2 separate regions of the Homo sapiens genome follow, and region 1 is linked to region 2. Evidence: fine-mapped expression QTL. A gene starts in region 2. The other region holds a variant in brackets. All regions are shown on one strand. Distances are from middle to middle. Region 1 overlaps DEF8 (differentially expressed in FDCP 8 homolog). Region 2 holds the start of CDK10 (cyclin dependent kinase 10).

Evidence for each region.
Region 1: its variant is fine-mapped to the expression of CDK10 in whole blood (INTERVAL, PIP above 0.99).

What each region holds. Positions count from the first base shown.
Region 1 is chr16:89,957,690-89,960,695 of GRCh38, reverse strand. It overlaps DEF8 (differentially expressed in FDCP 8 homolog), which reads right to left. Exons shown (of 13, transcript NM_001242818.2): 6 at 1,541-1,682. Among named protein-coding and RNA genes, the nearest start is that of SNORA119, 5.8 kb to the right of the region's middle. The variant T/C (reference allele first, on the strand shown) is at 1,736.
Region 2 is chr16:89,685,292-89,688,001 of GRCh38, reverse strand. It overlaps CDK10 (cyclin dependent kinase 10), which reads right to left and starts at 1,313. Exons shown (of 13, transcript NM_052988.5): 1 at 1,205-1,313. The coding sequence starts at 1,291. LINC02166 (long intergenic non-protein coding RNA 2166) reads left to right here and starts at 1,090. Exons shown (of 3, transcript NR_184152.1): 1 at 1,090-1,555; 2 at 2,327-2,710. RefSeq lists a silencer at 879-1,128.

The sequences.
Region 1 (3,006 bases), 270 kb before region 2:
GCCAACCTGCCACTCCCACCACCAGACCCAACCTGTCCAAATGTAACAAACGAAACTCCCACCCCCGACCCCAAGCCCCTCAGCTTCCCCATCTCGGTTTCAGCAGCTCCACCCTTTCAATATCATGAGTTATCCTGAAGGGTTTCTCTCTCTCTGTTTTTGTTGTTGTTGTTTTTGTACTTTTTAAGAGACAGGGTCTTGCTCTTTTGCCCAGGCTGGAGTGTAGTCGTGCAATCAGAGCTCACTGCAGCCTCAGACTCCAGGGCCCAAGCGATCCTCCCATCTTTGCACTGGAAAACCCTAGGATTACAGGCGTGAGCCACCGCACTCAGTCAGACTATTTTCTAATCTGTTACATTCCGTTTCCAAACCTTCAGCTGGACTGCCCTTAGCGACTCCTCACTCCCACCACCTACCCCAGCCCAATCAGAGTCATCCCCCTCTTCTCAGTCACCTCCCTCTCAGTCCAAGCTCAGTCAGCAGCCACAGTAACCTATTAAAGCTCAAGTATGTCCAGCACCCACTTGTGGCCCCCACTGCACTTAAAGAAAAGCCCCAGCCACCTCTGAGCCCACCTCCCCCAGAAACAGAACTGCAGCCCCACCTGGCTCTCTGCTCCTCCTTATATCAACCACAGGGCTGCCCCCACCGGAACATTCCTCCAGACACAGAGCTGCAGCCACACCTGGCTCTCTGCTCCTCCTTATATCAACCACAGCACTGTCCCCACCGGAACAGTCCTCCAGACACAAAGCTGCAGCCACACCTGGCTCTCTGCTCCTCCTTAAGGCACTGGACACATCAACCACAGGGCTGCCCCCACCAGAACATTCCTCCAGACATATTGTCTTGGCTTGCTCCCTGACCTTCAAGTTTTTGCTTAAAAGTCACGTGACGCCGGCTGGGCGTGGTGGCTCACGCCTGTAATCCCAGCACTTTGGGAGGCCGAGGTGGACGGAACACAAGATCAGGAGATAGAGACCATCCTGGCTAACACGGTGAAACCCCGTCTCTACTAAAAAAAATACAAAAAATTAGCCGGGCGTGGTGGCGGGCACCTGTAGTCCCAGCTACTCAGGAGGCTGAGGCAGGAGAACGGTGTGAACCCGGGAGGTGGAGCTTGCAGTGAGCTGAGATTGCACCACTGCACTCCAGCCTGGGCGATTGAGTGAGACTCCGTCTCAAAAACAAAACCAAACCAAAAACAAACAAAAACAAAAAACAAAGTCACGTGATGCCTTTACATTCTGCCCTAAAGTCACATTCACTCCACCCTAACACGTGCTAGGTCCTTTCCCTTTTTCTTCATTGTACAAACTAGACACACCATGTAATTCACTAGTTTAATTTCTCATCCAGAACAGCCCTGTCCAATGTAGACAGTACAACGAGGAAATGCATATTTAGTTAATTTAACTTTGACTGGCCATGTTTGGCTAGTGGCCACCACACTGGATAGCTCACATCTGAATGTGAGCCCAGCGGAGGCAGGAACTTTGGTCTCTCTCATTCCTCACTCCTCGTCTGGGTCTCGGCCCACCTGTGCAGGTGTACCAGGTCTGAATGAGCCCCCAGATGATGGTGTTACACTTGTCACAGGTCTGCTTGACGCTCTTGCTCTTCTCCTTGTAAAAGCGGTGCTCAAGGAGCACTCGGATGTTTGGCTCATCCTCATTGGGGTCCTGCAGAGGGTGAGTCAGGGAGGGGGTCACAGGTGAGCTGGGCTGAAGTTCCT[T/C]TCCCTTCGCACAAGCCCCTCAACTTATTTCTTCCAGGCACCATTTAGGGCAGAGATTGTGAGTTTCAGCACAATGCCATGTCCCTTTTCTCCCTTTCACAGTAAACAATGATCAGCTGGACAAGGACCGCCAAGGTCACATGCTACCTTTCCCAGCATCCCTTGCGACCTTTCCCAGCATCCCTTGCAGCGAGGGGCTGTGTGGGATTGCACCGGGCCATGGGCATGTGAGCGGGAGCGACCCGGCCTCTCTGCCCCTCCTGCTTTTTGCCGGTTAGGTGCAGGGCAATGGAAAAGGAGGCCCTCCCCAACACCATTAGCTGTCATAGAGGCCCCAGACCACCTATGGGATTTTTACGTGAGGAAACGAACACATCTTCTCTAAGCCACTATGTTTTGGGGTTTTTTTTTCTTACCACCAATTTACCTGTTTCCTCATGAATATTCTACTTTCTACATTCCCAGGGATACCTGAATCAGCACAGGGGACACAGGGCAGCCAGGCCAAAGCACACACAGACCCAAGGACTGCATCAGGAACATCTGTGGCCTGGGACCCACCACCTTCTTTTGTTGTCACCTTCAAGACACCACCCGTCCTTGTCCATGTGGCTCACTCAGGGAGGAACTTACTTAGCCCACCCGCTTGCTTCAGTGGGTGGGCACACAGCCCAGAACTAGCCAATCGGCCACCGTCATTGGGTCAGTGGGCGGGCACACAGCCCAGAACTAGCCAATCGGCCACTGTCATTGGGTCAGGGGTGGGCACATGACCCAGAACTGGCCAGTCAGCCACTGTCATCCGGTCAGGACTGGCCAATGAAAGTCAGGCCTGAGGTTCCTGCTATAACCACTGTGAAAAGGCAGCTGTCATCTGCACAGGGAGGCTCAGCTCCTGGAAAGCAAGATGTGGTTGCCGGGACCGTCTCTGCCACCGCACAGGGAAGGCCTGCCTGAGGCTGGATCAGACACAGGAAGTCGAGTTGGAAGAGAGCAAGATTCCTGACACTGGAGGATCTTCCAGTCACCAAGCAAATACATTTTTCTTTTTGGCTTAAGCTACTCAGGGTTGAGTTTCTGTTCCTTGCAACAGGAGGGTCTAGGCTAATAGGGAAACCTCCCGCAGTGGGGTGAGGGCCCGTCTTCCACCCTGCCTGTCTCGTGCCCTTCTACCTCAGCCCCTGAGGCCGAGAGAGAGACCACCGCCTGAGAGAGAGCCAGAGGCTGGCAGGGTCCTCCTAGTTCCACAGTTCTGGCCTCGGCCCCAGGCT
Region 2 (2,710 bases):
GGGCTCAAGCAATCCTCCCACCTCAGCCTCCCAGATTGCTGAGATTACAGGTGTGAGCCACTGGCCGCATTTGTCCTCAGTCTGATTCCTTCCTGACACCTGGGGACCGAGTCAGAAGCATCTGGCCTGTCACTCACTGATGGCCTAGTCTCAAACTCCCTTTCCCGCCTTAATTCCCCTTCTCACATCCTCTGCTTGTGCTCTTCTCGACACGCTTATTTCTGGGTGTCCAAATCCTTGTCACACTTCCTGAACTCAAAGAAATGCCAGGCCAGGCTGGGGGCGGTGGCTCACGCCTGTAATTCCAGCACTTGGGAGGCCGAGGCAGGAAGATCACTTGAGCCCAGGAGGCTGACGATGCACTGAGCCGTGATCACGCCACTGCATTCCAGCCTGGGCGAGAGCGCTAGACCCTGTCTCAAAAAAACAACAAAAAAGAAAAGGCCAACTCACTACTTCACCCCAGAGTCCAGCACACGGCTCTCAACGCGGTGAGCGCCTGCTGCACGTCTGGATGAGTAAAGTGTGGCTCCTGTTGTCATCCAGCCACGATCTGTTAATGATTCTTACTGAACACGTGGCTTGGCCTCTCAGAGCACCAGCCAGCAGTTAAAAACACAAACCAGCGGCCAAAGTTCAGGGCTCTCCACCCCCACCAGCCGTGCACCTGGGCAACACCGCCCAACGCCCAGAGGCTCTCTCCTGGTCTCTGCAGAGGGAGGCACCGGCACCTCCGCAAGGGACGCGCCCAGGGTTCGCGTGAAGCCGCCAGGCAGCGCTGGACCCCGCTCCATGCAGCCCAAGCCCAGCGGGAGCCTTCAAGCTCGAACTCGTCGCGGGTGTAAATTCTCCCCACAAACAAGTGGCTCGCGGCTCAGCCTGCAAAGCCCAGCTCGGGCGCTGAACCCAGCAGCGCCCGAGCTGGATCCCGGAGCTTGCTCTTCCCAAGTCCCGGGCCCGTCTCTCCGCGGGCGCGAGGCATCCCTGAGCCCGCCCCGGCCCCTCAGATCTCCAGGGACCGGCTGTCGGGGGTCCTGAGCCCGCCCCGCCCCGGCTTCCGCCCCCGCCGCGGGGAACTCTGGGACTGTCGTTCCCGCCCGTGCCGGAAGCCTCGGCGCGGCAGCGCGACACGAGGCTCCCCAGACCCAGCCGGGCAGTGCCGCTAGCGAGGCGGGCAGAGCTGCCCGGGTGGCACCCCGCGCACCCTGTGTTCCGGAGGCACCGTGAAGAAGCCCTCCTTACGAATACACTTCAGACGGATCTGCTCGCACTCCAGATCTGGCTCCGCCATGCCGAGCGCTGGCCCCGCCTCTCTTGCGCGCAGGCGCAGACGCGGACGGCCCCGCGGCGCAGGCGCGAAAGCTCCTTCCCGGGCTTCCTCTCCTTAGCAACGGTTACCAAGAGACGCTCCCGCGGGTCCGCCCTAGGCGCTGGGCTCCAGGGATCGGCTCCGACTGCTGCAGTTCGGGCCTTATTTTAGGGTGAAGCCCGGGCAGCCGACCCGGCTGCGCCGTAGTGGGAGGCCACGGCGATTACCCAGGTGAAGGTCTTCCAGGTGAGACGGGTTCCCCCAGGTAAGAAGGTCCTCCAGGTGGGAGTCCTTCATGTGGGGAGGTCCTCCAGGTGGGGGGGGAGGGTCCTCTCGGTGGGGGGTCCTCCAGGTAAGAGGATCCTCTAGGTGGGGGGGGGGGGTTCCCCAGGTGAAGGGCCCTCCAGGTAAGAGGATCCTCTAGGTGGGGGGGGGGTTCCCCAGGTGAGGGGACCTCCAGGTAAGAGGATCCTCTAGGTGGGGGAGTCCCCCAGGTGAAGGGCCCTCCAGGTAAGAGGGTCCTCCAGGTGAGAGGGTCCTCCAGCGGAGGGGGTCCCCCAGGTAAGAGGGTCCTCCAGTTGGGAGTCCTTCAGGTGGGGTGGTCCTCCAGGTGAGAGAGTCTTCCAGGTGAGAGGGTCCTCCAGGTGAGAGGTGAAGGTGAAGGTCCTCCAGGTGAGGGTCAGGTCACTTGGTCCAGGGATGTGGCTTCAGCAAGCATTTGGGTGCCTCCTCTGTGTTCAGGACATGGGGACTCCAGGAGACTGAAGGAAGCAAGTGGCAATGTCCATGCTGTCAAGTTCTGTCACAGAAATAAGCAGGAGTGAGTGAAAGACAGGAGAGAAGCTCTGTGAGGGGTGGCATTCAAGCTTAGCTTCTGGGCAGGAAGAGGCAGCTATGTCAGCATTCCCTAACAAGGTTTGGCAAAGTAGATACCTCCCCTCACTCATGGAAGACCTGACTTCCCAGGCTGGTAGAAGCTTCTCTCACAGGCACCTGCCTCTCCAATCTCTTTCACAGCCCAGCCCTGGAAGGTGGAAAAAGAAAAGTTGACATGGAATGTTTAGGAAGCACCATTGGTCCAGGTCCAGGATCGGGGCAGCCAGCATGTCCTCTAATCTGGCTTCACTGTTGAAATCCAGTCGAGCAAGCAGGGCCCAAACCACTGCGAGACCAGCTCGGTCGGGCCCAAACCACCGCCCACTGCGAGACCAGCTCGGTCGGGCCCAAACCACCGCCCACTGCGGGACCAGCTCGGTCGGGCCCAAACCACCGCCCACTGCGGGACCAGCTCGGTCGGGCCCAAACCACTGCCCACTGCGGGACCAGCTCGGTCGTGGAGACCCTAACCCAGCGGCGCTAGAGGAATTAAAGAAACACACACAGAAATATAGGGTGTGGAGT